Linked DNA regions of Homo sapiens. The protein of the gene in region 1 interacts with the protein of each later gene in a pairwise test. Each region holds a gene or a part of one and is shown on either strand. Other genes may lie near its edges.

Evidence for each region. The genes of interacting proteins can lie anywhere in the genome.
Region 2: the proteins of HERPUD2 (region 1) and ALG10 interact in binary tests that used the Homo sapiens proteins (3 or more experiments, as listed by UniProt).

What each region holds. Positions count from the first base shown.
Region 1 is NC_000007.14:35,662,856-35,671,883, forward strand, and holds part of HERPUD2 (homocysteine-responsive endoplasmic reticulum-resident ubiquitin-like domain member 2 protein), read right to left. Parts: intron 7,474-9,028; coding exon 7,360-7,473; intron 4,734-7,359; coding exon 4,579-4,733; intron 1-4,578. UniProt on the Homo sapiens protein: Could be involved in the unfolded protein response (UPR) pathway.
Region 2 is NC_000012.12:34,024,918-34,030,252, forward strand, and holds the end of ALG10 (dol-P-Glc:Glc(2)Man(9)GlcNAc(2)-PP-Dol alpha-1,2-glucosyltransferase), read left to right. Parts: intron 1-945; coding exon 946-1,998; 3' UTR 1,999-3,385; downstream 3,386-5,335. UniProt on the Homo sapiens protein: Dol-P-Glc:Glc(2)Man(9)GlcNAc(2)-PP-Dol alpha-1,2-glucosyltransferase that operates in the biosynthetic pathway of dolichol-linked oligosaccharides, the glycan precursors employed in protein asparagine (N)-glycosylation.

The DNA of each region.
Region 1 (9,028 bases):
TGTGTCTATCTCCTTCAGTTCTGCTCTGATCTTAGTTATTTCTTGCCTTCTGCCAGCTTTTGAATGTGTTTGGTCTTCCTTCTCTAGTTCTTTTAATTGTGATGTTAGGGTGTCAATTTTAGATCTCTCCTGCTTTCTCTTGTGGGCATTTAGTGCTATAAATTTCCCTCTACACACTGTATTAAATGTGTCCCAGAGATTCTGGTATGTTGTGTCTTTGTTCTCATTGATTTCAAAGAACATCTTTATTTCTGCCTTCATTTCGTTATGTACCCAGTAGTCATTCAGGAGCAGGTTGTTCAGTTTCCATGTAGTTGAGCGGTTTTGACTGAGTTTCTTAATTCTGAGCTTTAGTTTGATTGCACTGTGGTCTGAGAGACAGTTTGTTATAATTTCTGTTCTTTTACTGAGTAAATTTGTTATAATTTACTGTTCTTTTATTTGCTGAGGAGTGCTTTACTTCCAACTATGTGGTCAATTTTGGAGTAAGTGTGATGTGGTGCTGACAAGAATGTATATTCTGTTGTTTTGGAGTGGAGAGTTCTGCAGGTGTCTATTAGGTCTGCTTGGTGCAGAGCTGAGTTCAATTCCTGGATATCCTTATTAACTTTCTGTCTCGTTGATCTGTCTAATGTTGACAGTGGGGTGTTAAAGTCTCCCATTATTATTGCGTGGGAGTCTAAGTCTCTTTGTAGGTCTTTAAGGACTTGCTTTATGAATCTGGGTCCTCCTGTATTGGGTGCATATATATTTAAGATAGTTAGCTCCTCTTGTTGAATTGATCCCTTTACCATTATGTAATGGCCTTTTGTCTCTTTTGATCTGTTGGTTTAAAGTCTGTTTTATCAGAGACTAGGACTGCAATCCCTGCCTTTTTTTTGTTTTCCATTTGCTTGGTAGATCTTCCTCCATCCCTTTATTTTGAGCCTATGTGTGTCTCTGCACGTGAGATGGGTTTCCTGAATACAGCAGATGGGTCTTGACTCTATCCAATTTGCCAGTCTGTGTCTTTTAATTGGAGCATTTAGCCCATTTACATTTAAGGTTAATATTATTATGTGTGAATTTGAGCCTGTCATTATGATGTTAGCTGGTTATTTTGCTCATTAGTTGATGCAGTTTCTCCCTAGTATAGATGGTCTTTACAATTTGGCATGTTTTTGCAGGGCTGGTACCGGTTGTTCCTTTCCGTGTTTTAGTGCTTCCTTCAGGAGCTCTTGTAAGGCAGGCCTGGTTGTGACAAAATCTCTCAGCATTTGTTTGTCTGTAAAGGATTTTATTTCTCCGTCACTTATGAAGCTGAGTTTGGCTGAATATGAAATTCTGGGTTGAAAATTCTTTTAAGAATATTGAATATTGGCCCCCACTCTCTTCTGGCTTGTAGAGTTTCTGCCGAGAGATCAGCTATTAGTCTGATGGGTTTCCCTTTGTGGGTAATGAGACCTTTCTCTCTGGCTGCCCTTAACATTTTTTTCTTCATTTCAACTTTGGTGAATCTGACAATTATGTGTCTTGGAATTGCTATTCTCGAGGAGTATCTTTGTGGTGTTCTCTGTATTTCCTGAATTTGAATGTTGGCCTGCCTCACTAGGTTGGGGAAGTTCTCCTGGATGATATCCTGAAGAGTGCTTTCCAACTTGGTTGCATTCTCCCCATCACTTTCAGGTACACCAATCAGATGTAGATTTGGTCTTCTCACATAGTCCCATATTTCTTGGAGGCTTTGTTCATTTCTTTTTACTCTTTTTTCTCTAAACTTCTCTTCTCACTTCATTTCATTCATTTGATCTTCAATCACTGATACCCTTTCTTCCATTTAATCAAATCAGCTACTGAAGCTTGTGCATGCATCACGTAGTTCTTGTGCCATGGTTTTCAGCTCCATCAGGTCATTTATGGACTTATCTATGCTGTTTATTCTCGTTAGCCATTTGTCTACTCTTTTTTCAAGGTTTTTAAGCTTCTTTGTGATGGGTTCAAACATCCTCCTTTAGCTGGGAGAAGTTTGTTATTACCGATTGTCTGAAGCCGCCTTCTCTCGACTCGTCAAAGTCATTCTCCATACAGCTTTGTTCCGCTGCTGGCAAGGAGCTCATGTTGCTGCCTAATCCTTCCTCTGGAAGCTTCATCTCAGAGGGGCACCCAGCCTTATGAAGTGCCAGTCGCCCCCCTACTGGGAGATGCCTCCCAGTTAGGCTACTCGGGGGTCAGGGACCCACTTGAGGAGGCAGTCTGTCTGTTCTCAGATCTCAAACTCAGTGCTGGGAGAACCACTACTCTCTTCAAAGCTGTCACACAGGGACATTTAAGTCTGCAGAAGTTTCTGCTGCCTTCTGTTCAGCTATGCCCTGCCCCTAGAGGTGGAGTCTACAGAGGCAGGGAGGCCTCCTTGAGCTGAGGTGGGCTCCACCCAGTTCGAGCTTCCTGGCCACTTTGTTTATGTACTCGAGCCTCGGCAATGGCAGATGCCCCTCCCTCAGCCTTGCTGTCGCCTTGCAGTTTGATCTCAGACTGCTGTGCTAGCAATGAGCAGGGCTCCTTGGGCATGGGACCCTCTGAGCCAGGCGCGGGATATAATCTCCTGGTGAGCCGTTTGCTAAGGCCATTGGAAAAGTGCAGTATTAGGGTGGGAGTATCCCGATTTTCCAGGTGCAGTCTCTCACGGCTTCCCTTTTGTAGTAAAGGGAATTCCCCGACCCCTTGCGCTTCCCAGGTGAGGCGATGCCCCGCCCTGCTCCATGGGCTGCACCTATTTGTCTGGCAAGCCCCAGTGAGATGAACCTGGTACCTCAGTTGGAAATGCAGAAATCGCCCATCTTCTGCATCGTTCATGCTGGGAGCTGCAGACTGGAGCTGTTCCTATTCGGCCATCTTGGCGCCACCTATTTCAGATTTTTCTAATCAGCTTAATATACTTCGAAGAGCTGAATGCTTTTGTCTTTTATGTTTATTAATTTTCTCAATAGCCTAGTTTAGAGAAATTATTAATCTTTTACCAATGTATCTATGGTCTTATTCTGAAGACCTGTAATCTTATAAGCTTGATTTGTTTATTACAAAATATATTCACTGTAAGTAAGAGAAAGAGTTATAAATTTTATCCAGAGATAACCACTATTAATGTGGCACTATATATTTTTCCAGGCTTATTTATAATACTCCCACCTTCCACCACTACCACCAAATAAAATAAGTAAAATCACTCTGTATAAACTGAGAGGAACTTACTCTGTGAAAAAGAAAGGAAGTGAATTACTGTCATAAGACAAAGTATTTGAAGCTACTGTTCCATAATATAAACCCTGAGAACACTGCTTTTTACAAGTAAATCTTGGTTTATATTAATAGTAATCACTTTCTGAAAACAAAAATAGTTTCACAGGTACTTTATGAAAGTCTACAACCAGCCTCATCTAAACATTTATTTTGAAAGAAAAGGCTTCACATTTAAGAAATCTGAGACAAATTAGTTCTCTTCTATTTGCTATATATTCAGCTTTGTTTTTCTGTATTAATAACTGAATTAAGTTTAAAGTTCTAAGTAAAAAGTACCTGAGTGTTTATGCCGTCCTGTTGAGCACAGCAGTCAATAGCTACTCCTTGGTTACACCACCTACATTACAATTCTGAGGTCCTAGCCATATTCTCATTTCTAGCTCCATCATCATGGATCCAGACCAGTGCCACACACTGCAGCCCCATGGCTTGATACGCAACACAGAAATTATCACTATCTGTTACTCAAGCTTCCTTTACCTCAAAAATAACAAACAATAATACCCCAGTAAAACAGTCTGCTTTCACACACAACCCTGGTCCAAACCATGTTCTCCAAGATCCTACTCTCTAAGCTGCTTTACCTGTGGCTGCATTTCCTCTGGAAGTGCCTAACCCAAGGGGCCTGCTGTAATTGCTAAATATAGGGTGACTATGGCAAGCTTCTTAAGAAAACTGCTTTATAAAACTCTCAATACAACAAAGATTCTGGACAACATGCAGCAAGATTAGCATATCCCTGTAATACATCATGGTTTTACTCTAGCACAGTTGTTACCAAGTTGATTAGAAACACTTGTGGAACGTTTAAAAACTTTTAAAAACAGATTGCTGGGCTCTGTACTCTTTCAAGTATACCTTCACTCAACCACATTCCCCTAAACACTAAATTGAGTAGATCTATAGTGAGACTGAGTAAAAAAAAATTAGTTACGTAGATCCTTGCTATTCAAAGTGTAGTCCAAACATCAGAAGCATTAGCATCATCTGGGAGCTTGTCAGAAATGCAGATTCTCAGGCCCCATCATACCTATTGAATACAAACCTGCAGCTCAACAAGGTCTCCCGGTGATTAGGACAAACATTCAAGATTGAAAGCACTGCCCTACATGATTCTCATGTGCAGCCAGGTTTGAAAAGCAGTGCTCTTCTTAACCCTCTAGTTCTCAAAATACAAAATCAAATATATGAATAAATTTAAAATGTACTTTAATTACTGCAAAGAGGCTATAGTGAAACTCAAAAGCAATTCATTTTTAGGGGGCCCCAATCACATTCCATAGCTACCACAATTTCACTTACCCTTGCATTACATATGGAAACTGGTGACTCTGTGCTTGGTCAGTTTGTGCTTGTGGAAGGGTACGCTGCCTCAATCCTTCTGAGGAAGAACCCACAGCTAAAGACAAGGTTTCTTGACCAGATGATGGAGTTGTTGATCCTGAATGATCTGAACTCTACAAATAAAAATGTAATTTTTAAAAGGAGATTTAGTTCTTTACAATCATAAAATTACAGGCACATTACTAAAAACGTATTCATGAAATCCCTCTGCAAAATAACATTTCAGAAATTTACTGTTTTACATCGTGTGTCCAGTATAAGTAGATATTTTAATTTTAGTACGTCAAAACTTATCAAAACTGCTTAATTAAACTAAAATATTCCATTTTTTCAACTAGAAATGGCCGAGGAGCAGAATAATAATATACAAAAACAGCATATTAAATTCTGAGGATTAAGTTAATGCATAAAAAGCTCTTTTCACATGATTAAATTAATGCATGCAAAGCTCCTTTCATGATGCCTAACACATACATTTATTGAAAGTGTTCAATAAATGGTACTAATTACTGAGTCATTTAAACAGTTACTATGTGCCAAGTACTGTACAACATGCTATTGTTAACATATTGATTTAAAGTAATGAGAAACAGGCTAGAAATCCTAGAAATCAAAAGATCTAAAATCTAGTGTTATCTCTGACATTAACAAGAGTTATAACCTTAAAGGTTCACTTAACCTCTCAGAGTTTCCACTTTCCTACAGAAAATGAGATTGGACTAAATTTTCAAGATTCCTTTCAGTTCTAGAATTCTATTAGTTTATAGAAATCACCAACAAATATTGCTTTTTTACAAAATGAACTACGAGAATCAAGATGTTAATCAGTATTTTTTTATTCTCATGCTCAAATCTTTTTATTCTCGTGCTCATGGATTCAGTAACCATAAACAATATAACTCCCTGAAGACCATCCCAATTTGTTTGAAAATAGTTTGTCAAGTGTTTCATGTACATTTAAAACACAATTACATTTTACATAAATTATAGTTCTTCCACTTTAAAAAGCTAGGTACAGTATTATTTTAACATCCTTCCTTTAACAATTTTGTTAAATTGTATTTTACCCGTACTGCCTTCCTATTGACAGGATGTCTTTTTGCATGACTCCCATGCTAAGTCCTGCAATGTGAAAGGTCCAAAACTGTCTTTTGCAAAACAGTCCACACCAGTCTTTTGCAAGACTAACAAAAACTTTTAAAATGTTACTTCACACACAATAGATATCAAATATCTTACTAAGGAGTCCGGATTCTTAGGAACATAAACTGGGAAAGGTTTCTTTTTCAGCAAGATTTCTCATTAAATGGGCCATCATAATACGGTGTTCATTAATACAATTATTAGAAGAAAAGCCTAGTCATTTGGCAGCACAACCTAATTTCTCTAGAACTAATGATTTCTGACCTTATTAGGTAATTATTTTATGATTAGATCTTTAAAATATTTTCAAGTCCCTTGAAATTTCTGAACCATGAAAAATTAAGGTGAATTCAACTTAACATTCCTTTGATACTTTTCAGGCTTTCATAACACTGAAAAAAACAAATATACACACTAATGACACAAAATCATGGCTGAGCAACCCACTGGACAAGTCAAAGTCAGAGGGTTCTTTCCCAACAAAAATTGAAGCAATGCAACTGTGTCCGACGACTACAAAAAAAAACTCTGTGCCAATGCCAATGTCTGTGCCTTTCCATGCCAAGGCAGGAAACATACAAAGACCCTTGGGTGTTTTGACAAGGCATATTTTATTTAGTTTAATGTAAGCTAAATTCCCATGGCTGGTACTAGGAAATAGTTACCATTAAGAGAATACAAATTAAATACAGCAACTGGAGAAGCTAGTTTCTTAAAGAAGCAGTTAACTAGTATCTATTGAGAGAGTTTTCAACTAGCTCCCACCCCTGTCACTTGTGCTCTCTTTCAAGCTTTGGCTGGAGTCTTGACAAGGAAAGCATACTTAGCAGTAGAAAAGTTCCCTGACTGCTCAAGAAGTTGAAAGCAAGCTTCCACTCATCCAATCCTCTCACCTGCAAAGGTGTCATAGAAAGCTTTTATGGGAAATCAAAAATAACATAAAAGGATTGGGGACAATGTTTTTGAAATTTGTAGAAAATGTCTAAATTGAGAAGGTCAACTATTACAAAACATTTCCAAAACAATTTTAGGCAGATGGAAAAATAAGGATGGAGGAATGAATACCCAAGTCTGAAAGAGATTAATACATTAAGTATTTCCTCCCCAAGCAGGTGGAATGTACACCCAAATCCAGTCATTTTTAAAAAACAAAATCCTTGACCAAGTCATCTACTTCAAGAAGATTTAGGGTACTTAAATTTTAAACAATTTAATCCACCTTGAATAAAATATACTATTTTAAATACCTGGCATATTTCTGAAACGTCATTGGCCTAAGAGTTTATATTATATAACCGTAACATAATTCCGTTTTCTGAGTATTCCAGTAATTAAACCTTTGAAGATTAAATCTATTACTGACCTGCCATACAGCAAATTATAACTCAAGGTGAATAGACTTCAAGGGATAACACTGCGTATTAGATCTTTCAAAATGGTAAACTTTACAAAATGCCTAACTTTAGTTCAAAACACAATCTCAAAATTCACAAGCTCCAATTGTTCTGTTTTTCATTTAGTTTTTAGAGGCAAAAAATAAGACGACGACGAAAAAAAAAGAAAAGTTCAATGTTTACTCCTCCCAAAACAACTCACAGAATTGCTGCTGGATGCCAATGCTTCATGACTTTCTCTATTGGTGCTGGATTTTGGAGAACTGGGAGGAGTCCGAGAAGTACATACTAGATGAACCATATGATACTCATCTTGCTAAAATTAAAGAAGATTACATTTAAAGGGTAGTACTACAAAATGTACAGTTCAAAAAGTCAGTAGCTAAACTGAAATACCTAAAACTTAGGTCCCTTTCGAGCCTAGCCATTTAATTACTGATAAATTGTTATCATTTGAAGGTAAATTTGTCATTTTATTTGTGATCCTTTTGAATTCAATATTTTCTCCATACTTGGAAAATGATCTAAATACTCTGCAATTGCTGGGTTAAAAAATTATTTTGCATACGAAGCAGTCTTAAAGCAAACAATGTTGTGAAAGTTGTAACAGCACAATCTATAATTTCAGCATGAAAACATCTAGCACCTTAAACTTTTTACAGTTTACATATTTCCATCACTTGAGGCTTAGCAACTATAAAATAAACTCAAATAACTTCATCATAATCACATTTGCCTTAATTTTAGCAAGGTGATTTTTTTTACTCTTTTTTTCAGTCAAAAACTATTTTTATCTATAACACCTATACGCAGATATAAAGCATACATTTAAACTATATTCTGTAAATATCCCATGTTTTTCCATAAACCTAGAAATATGACTGAAGAAAAATATTCCAAATAACGATTAGGGTTGGCATTTTAGCTTAGTGAGATCATAAGCATATTTATTTATACTTAGACATAAAGCCAGCAAATAAGATGGGGAAAGGAAAGAAGGAATAAAGGAGGACAGAGAACAATGAAGGATGAGTCAGCTAGTTTTTTAAAAAGAAAAGAACAGAATGACAAAGAAAAAGGAGCAGAAAGAAAGATAACCAAATGGGGAGAAAGGGAAACAAAGCTACTAGAAACTATGAATGTATCACTTGCCTACCATGAACCTATAATTGTGCTTAATTTGGAGACAAATCCAAGAAAGGGTACAACAGGCCCTTCCTTAAAGAGGCTCATGATATTGTTAAGAGGGTAGACTAGTGCACTACAGCACAATTAGAGAAACACAGAGAACAGTCTTTTTTTCATGAAACTGAGAAGCCCAACCTTAATTGCTTTAGGAGTTTGGAGGAAGGAGTTACTAAGGGTTAGAATGCTAAAGAAAGGCTTCAGAGACAGCATGACAGAAGGTACGCCTGGCAAAGGAGGTTGAAGACACTCCTAATTTTCAACGTCTCCCTTAGCTTCTTAATACAGAATATTAACAAGCATACAAGTATAAGATGTTGATCCTTAGAAACCTAGTTCCAAAAGGTCATTATTAATCACAATTAATTCACAGAATTTATTTATCTTGGGAATGTTTCTATAAAACATTTTGTGACTAAATAGGTAAAGCTAATGGCAGTATTTAACTGAAAAAAGTAAAGGGGTACATTGACTTTAATAAAAACAGTTGAAAGAACTATTCAAAACATAAATGTATTACTCAAAATGTTTTATATAGGGGCACAAGAGTTCTTTGACTGAAGCAGTTTTTATTTTAAGTTGTTTGGCCTGAAACCATTCCTGGCAGCAAAAATCTTTTTAAAAGTCTTCATGTGTAGATTTAAGCTATCCTTGGCATAAAATAATTAATATATCTATATTTCAAA
Region 2 (5,335 bases), on another chromosome or scaffold:
GTCCTCACAGAGAAGATGGTACCAGAGCTGAGTCTTGATGAACGGATAGGGCTGTGTAGGGTGGGGAATTAATCCTGGGGAGACAAACAACATAAGAAAAGGAAGAAAGGCATTGAACAACGAGTTGCAGGGAATTGGTCTTGGAATTACAGGATTAAAAAGTAGAGGGATGTAAGGCTAGAGAAGTAGGTCATGAATGCCCTTATGTGTCACAGAGAGGACTTTGAACTTTAGCATGTAATGTAAAGACCTTAATTTTAATCAAGGAAATGGCATGGTCTGATTTGGTGATTTAGATTAAGTGGAGTATACAATTCAAGAACATAAGAACACTTTCAAATTCTGAAACAGCATGTCAGAAAGGCCAAAAGAAGATATATAACTTTAGACAGGCTCACTTTTCAGAAAAATACCTGTTATTTCATCATGAAAATTTCATCTTGAAAAAGTAAGTCTGGGTATGGTAGTATACCATATGCATGTTTATATTCTCCCTTGTGTAGAGTTATGAAGGATTTCCTTAAAGGAAAGTGGTTCATTATGGCTAAGTGAATCCTTACTGAAGGCACTAAAACATAAGCTCAGGGAAATGGAGCCAGCACCGTGTCCTATTTATCTCCATAGTCCACATAGAACTTAGTTAGTATCTTGCACTCAATAACTCCTTAACTAATCATTGCCTGATTCCAATTGTGTTAAGCTATAGAAGATTTGGCATACACATGGTCTCCAAACTGATAGGTATACATAAAAAGTACCAGGAAGTGTTCTTATAAATGTATATTGTGTTTTTGCAAAGCCAGAGATAAGATTAATATTGATTAATTTTATTTAAAGAAGGTTTGAGTAGTTGAGTAGTTTTTAAATAAATTTCTTCATTAGGTAAGCAGAAATAGCATTTTTTGTCATGAAAATAATTTTATCTGTGTTTCTTCTTCCTCCAAGGCTGCCTCAAGTATCCAGAGAGTCTTGTCAACATTAACACTAGCAGTATTTCCAACACTTTATTTTTTTAACTTCCTTTATTATACAGAAGCAGGATCTATGTTTTTTACTCTTTTTGCGTATTTGATGTGTCTTTATGGAAATCATAAAACTTCAGCCTTCCTTGGATTTTGTGGCTTCATGTTTCGGCAAACAAATATCATCTGGGCTGTCTTCTGTGCAGGAAATGTCATTGCACAAAAGTTAACGGAGGCTTGGAAAACTGAGCTACAAAAGAAGGAAGACAGACTTCCACCTATTAAAGGACCATTTGCAGAATTCAGAAAAATTCTTCAGTTTCTTTTGGCTTATTCCATGTCCTTTAAAAACTTGAGTATGCTTTTGCTTCTGACTTGGCCCTACATCCTTCTGGGATTTCTGTTTTGTGCTTTTGTAGTAGTTAATGGTGGAATTGTTATTGGCGATCGGAGTAGTCATGAAGCCTGTCTTCATTTTCCTCAACTATTCTACTTTTTTTCATTTACTCTCTTTTTTTCCTTTCCTCATCTCCTGTCTCCTAGCAAAATTAAGACTTTTCTTTCCTTAGTTTGGAAACGTAGAATTCTGTTTTTTGTGGTTACCTTAGTCTCTGTGTTTTTAGTTTGGAAATTCACTTATGCTCATAAATACTTGCTAGCAGACAATAGACATTATACTTTCTATGTGTGGAAAAGAGTTTTTCAAAGATATGAAACTGTAAAATATTTGTTAGTTCCAGCCTATATATTTGCTGGTTGGAGTATAGCTGACTCATTGAAATCAAAGTCAATTTTTTGGAATTTAATGTTTTTCATATGCTTGTTCACTGTTATAGTTCCTCAGAAACTGCTGGAATTTCGTTACTTCATTTTACCTTATGTCATTTATAGGCTTAACATACCTCTGCCTCCCACATCCAGACTCATTTGTGAACTGAGCTGCTATGCAGTTGTTAATTTCATAACTTTTTTCATCTTTCTGAACAAGACTTTTCAGTGGCCAAATAGTCAGGACATTCAAAGGTTTATGTGGTAATATCAGTGATATTTCGAACTGTGAAAATGGACTTAATAATTAGACCATTTCTACAAAGAACAACTGAATAGGTGGAAAACATGGAATTTCTTTTAGGTGCAGTGGTGGTCTTCAAATTACATTAGTTTTTTTTATATATATTTTAAACATATGTAAGAAATTAAGTGGCAAAGAACTGAGAAAGCTTAAGACCTGCTTCAAAAGCCTGAAAAATGGAAAAATAAAATTGTTTTCAGATATCTCATATCACTCTCATAATGTTGGCCCCTTAAAAAGCTTGGGAATGTTTTGTATGTACAAGTTTATTAAAACTGGGTATGCTTCATATTACTGGAATGAATTTATTCTCTTCAGAGAGAAATATTAGGTTAGTGCAAAAGTAATTGTGGTTTTTGCCATTGAAAGTAATGGCAAAACCACAATTACTTTTTTACCAACCTAATAACAATGTATTAGCAAATATTTACAAATGGTCAGGTGATATTCTTGATTGAAAAGTTGCTTAACATTTCAGTAATATAATTTTAATTCTAAGTCAAAATACAAATGCATAGATAGTAAATGATAAAGTAGAGACTCATATATGCCTGTCTAGACATCAAATTGTTGGTTATTGTTTACAATCTAGAAATGATGAAGCTCTTTCACTAATTCCTAATATGAAATGTATGATGGCCAAAGACAAATTGTATTGATTATAATCCTTTAAAAGGGGGATTTCCTTTCTGAAATACATATTGTATTAGCTTCCCAGGGCTTCCATAACAAATGACGACAAACTTGGGTGCTTACAACAATTTTCCTCACAGTCTGGAGGCCAGAAGTCTAAAATCAAAGTGTCAGCAGAGTTGGTTCCTTCTGGAGGCTCTAAGGAAGAATCCATAAACAGACATTCTATGTCTGTTTCCTAATATCTTGTGGCTGTGTGCAATTCTTGGAGTTCTTTGGCTTCTGGACAAATCTTGTCCAAGTATTGCAGACAGCAATCTTCACTCCAGTCTCTGCCTCTGTGTTCACACGGCCTTTCCCTCTGTCTTCTCTTCATTACCTTTTAAGGACAGTGTCTTTGAATGTAGGGCCCACCCTGATCTAGGGTGATTGTGTCTGGAGACCCTTAATTATGTTTACAAAGACCCATGTTCCAAGTAAGTTTGTATTCACATGATCTGAGTAGACATTGTCTCTTCGTGGGATACTTTTCAGTCCATGACAGTTACTAAAGGACATTTTAGGATAGTCTTCATATGATTGTTAGGAGACTACCTTTTTAGATTTTTTTTATTATATATCAAATTATAGTTGTATATACTTATGAGAAACAAAGTGGCATTATGATTTTTGAATATAATGTGGGATTAAATAAAGCTAATCTATCCATCACCTCAAATATTTGACATATTTTGTGATGAAAACATTTGAAATTTACTCTCAGCAGTATTGAAATGTACAGTGCTTAATTATTAGCTGTATTCACCATGTTGTGTAATAGATCTAAAAAAAGTCAAACATGCTCCTTCTATCTAATTGAGGCTTTGTATCTTTTGATTATCATCTCCCCATTCCCACATCCCCGGCCTCTAGCAACCATCATTCTTCTCTCTACTTCTGTGAGTTTAATTGTTTTAGATTACACAAATAAGTGAGATCATGTGGTATTTGTCTTTCTGTGCTTGGCTTATTTCACTTACCATAATGTCCTCCAGGTTCATCCATATTGTTGCAAATGACACAATTTCTACCTTTTTAAAGGCCAAATAGTATTTTATTGTGTATATATGCCACATTTTCTTTATCCATGCATCCATTGATGGACATTTAGGTTGATTGAATAACTTGATAATTGTGACTTGTCTGCAGTGAACGTGGAGTGCAGACTTCTCTTTGACATACGGATTTCAAGTCTTCTGGATAAATGCCCAGAAGTGGGATTGTTGGATCAGGAGATAATATCTTAGCCGATACCTTTTAAATAACTCTCAGTATCTTTACTGAGAGGTTAAAAAGTAAGTGACTTCTGAGGTAATATAAAGCTAAAGGTGACTAGTGTTTGATTCCATTATCTATTTAAAAAAATGTCAGAATTGAAAGTTAAGAAATCATTTGGTCTGACCTTATTTTGTAGATTAGGGAACAACTGCTGGGGTAGGATTATTTTGTGTTACTTTTTGAATTTTGTGTTTATTATTTTGAGTGTATTTTTTGGGTTGTCATTCCATTATAGGAAAGTATTATTTGGGCATGTTAAATTTGACATGTAAACTTAGAATTATGAATAGAACACTTCTTTTAACATAATTTTATGTTTCCAAACTTTAAAAGTAGCTATAAGTGAACAAATTACTTTCCCCTCAATGTCAAATTTTGTTTCTCTGAGTTTTAAGTAATGATTCTACATTTACAAATATAAAATTGTGTGTAGGTGAAAATCACAAGTATAATTTGAATGATAAATACAGACCGTTTTTTGGTTGTACTCTAGTACTCAGAAAATAGAGTTGCATTAGTTATAACAGTGATTGTAGAAAAACGTGTTTTACCCAGACTTTTTAAAAATTAGACGAGAGAGGACACTCAGAGAAATTATACTTTTGTCATTAATTTACTATAATAGAGAACTAAATCCGAGAAGTCAAAATTGAAAAAAGAATGTATAATTTAGGGAAAATAACTTTTTGTCTGATAATATTAATGCAAGGATTTTGTATTTAGGAATACTTCTGAGAGGAGAAGCTTCCACTCTGATCTAGTCTGGCAAAATTGAGGAAAATATTCTACCCTGTAATTAAAGAAGACTGCTCTTTGGAGGGATCACTGTTCTAGATTTTTTTTTTTTTTTTTTTTTTTTTTTTTGAGGAGAAGTCTCACTCTTGTCCCCCAGGCTGGAGTGCAATGGCTTGATCTCGGCTCACTGAAACCTCCACCTCCCGGGTTCAAGCAATTCTCCTGCCTCAGCCTCCCGAGTAGCTGGGATTATAGGCACCTGCCACCACGCCCGGCTAATTTTTCCTATTTTTAGTAGAGACGGGATTTCACCATGTTGGCTAGGCTGGTCTCGAACTCCTGACCTCAGGTAGTACACCCGTCTCGGCCTCCCAAAGTGCTGGGATTACAGGCGTGAGCCACTGTGCCCAGCTCTTCTAGTTCATTTTTAAGTGTTGAGTCCCTGCTGTTTTAAGAGATGTTTTGGTGAAAATCTACATTCAGAGAGAAACAGATTAATCTTCCACATTTTTAATAAAATACATATAGTACTTGGGATTTTAAGAAAAGAATGCCATGTATTAAAAGGTGCTATTTTCAACTGTTTATTATTTTAAAACAGGAATGCTTATCAATA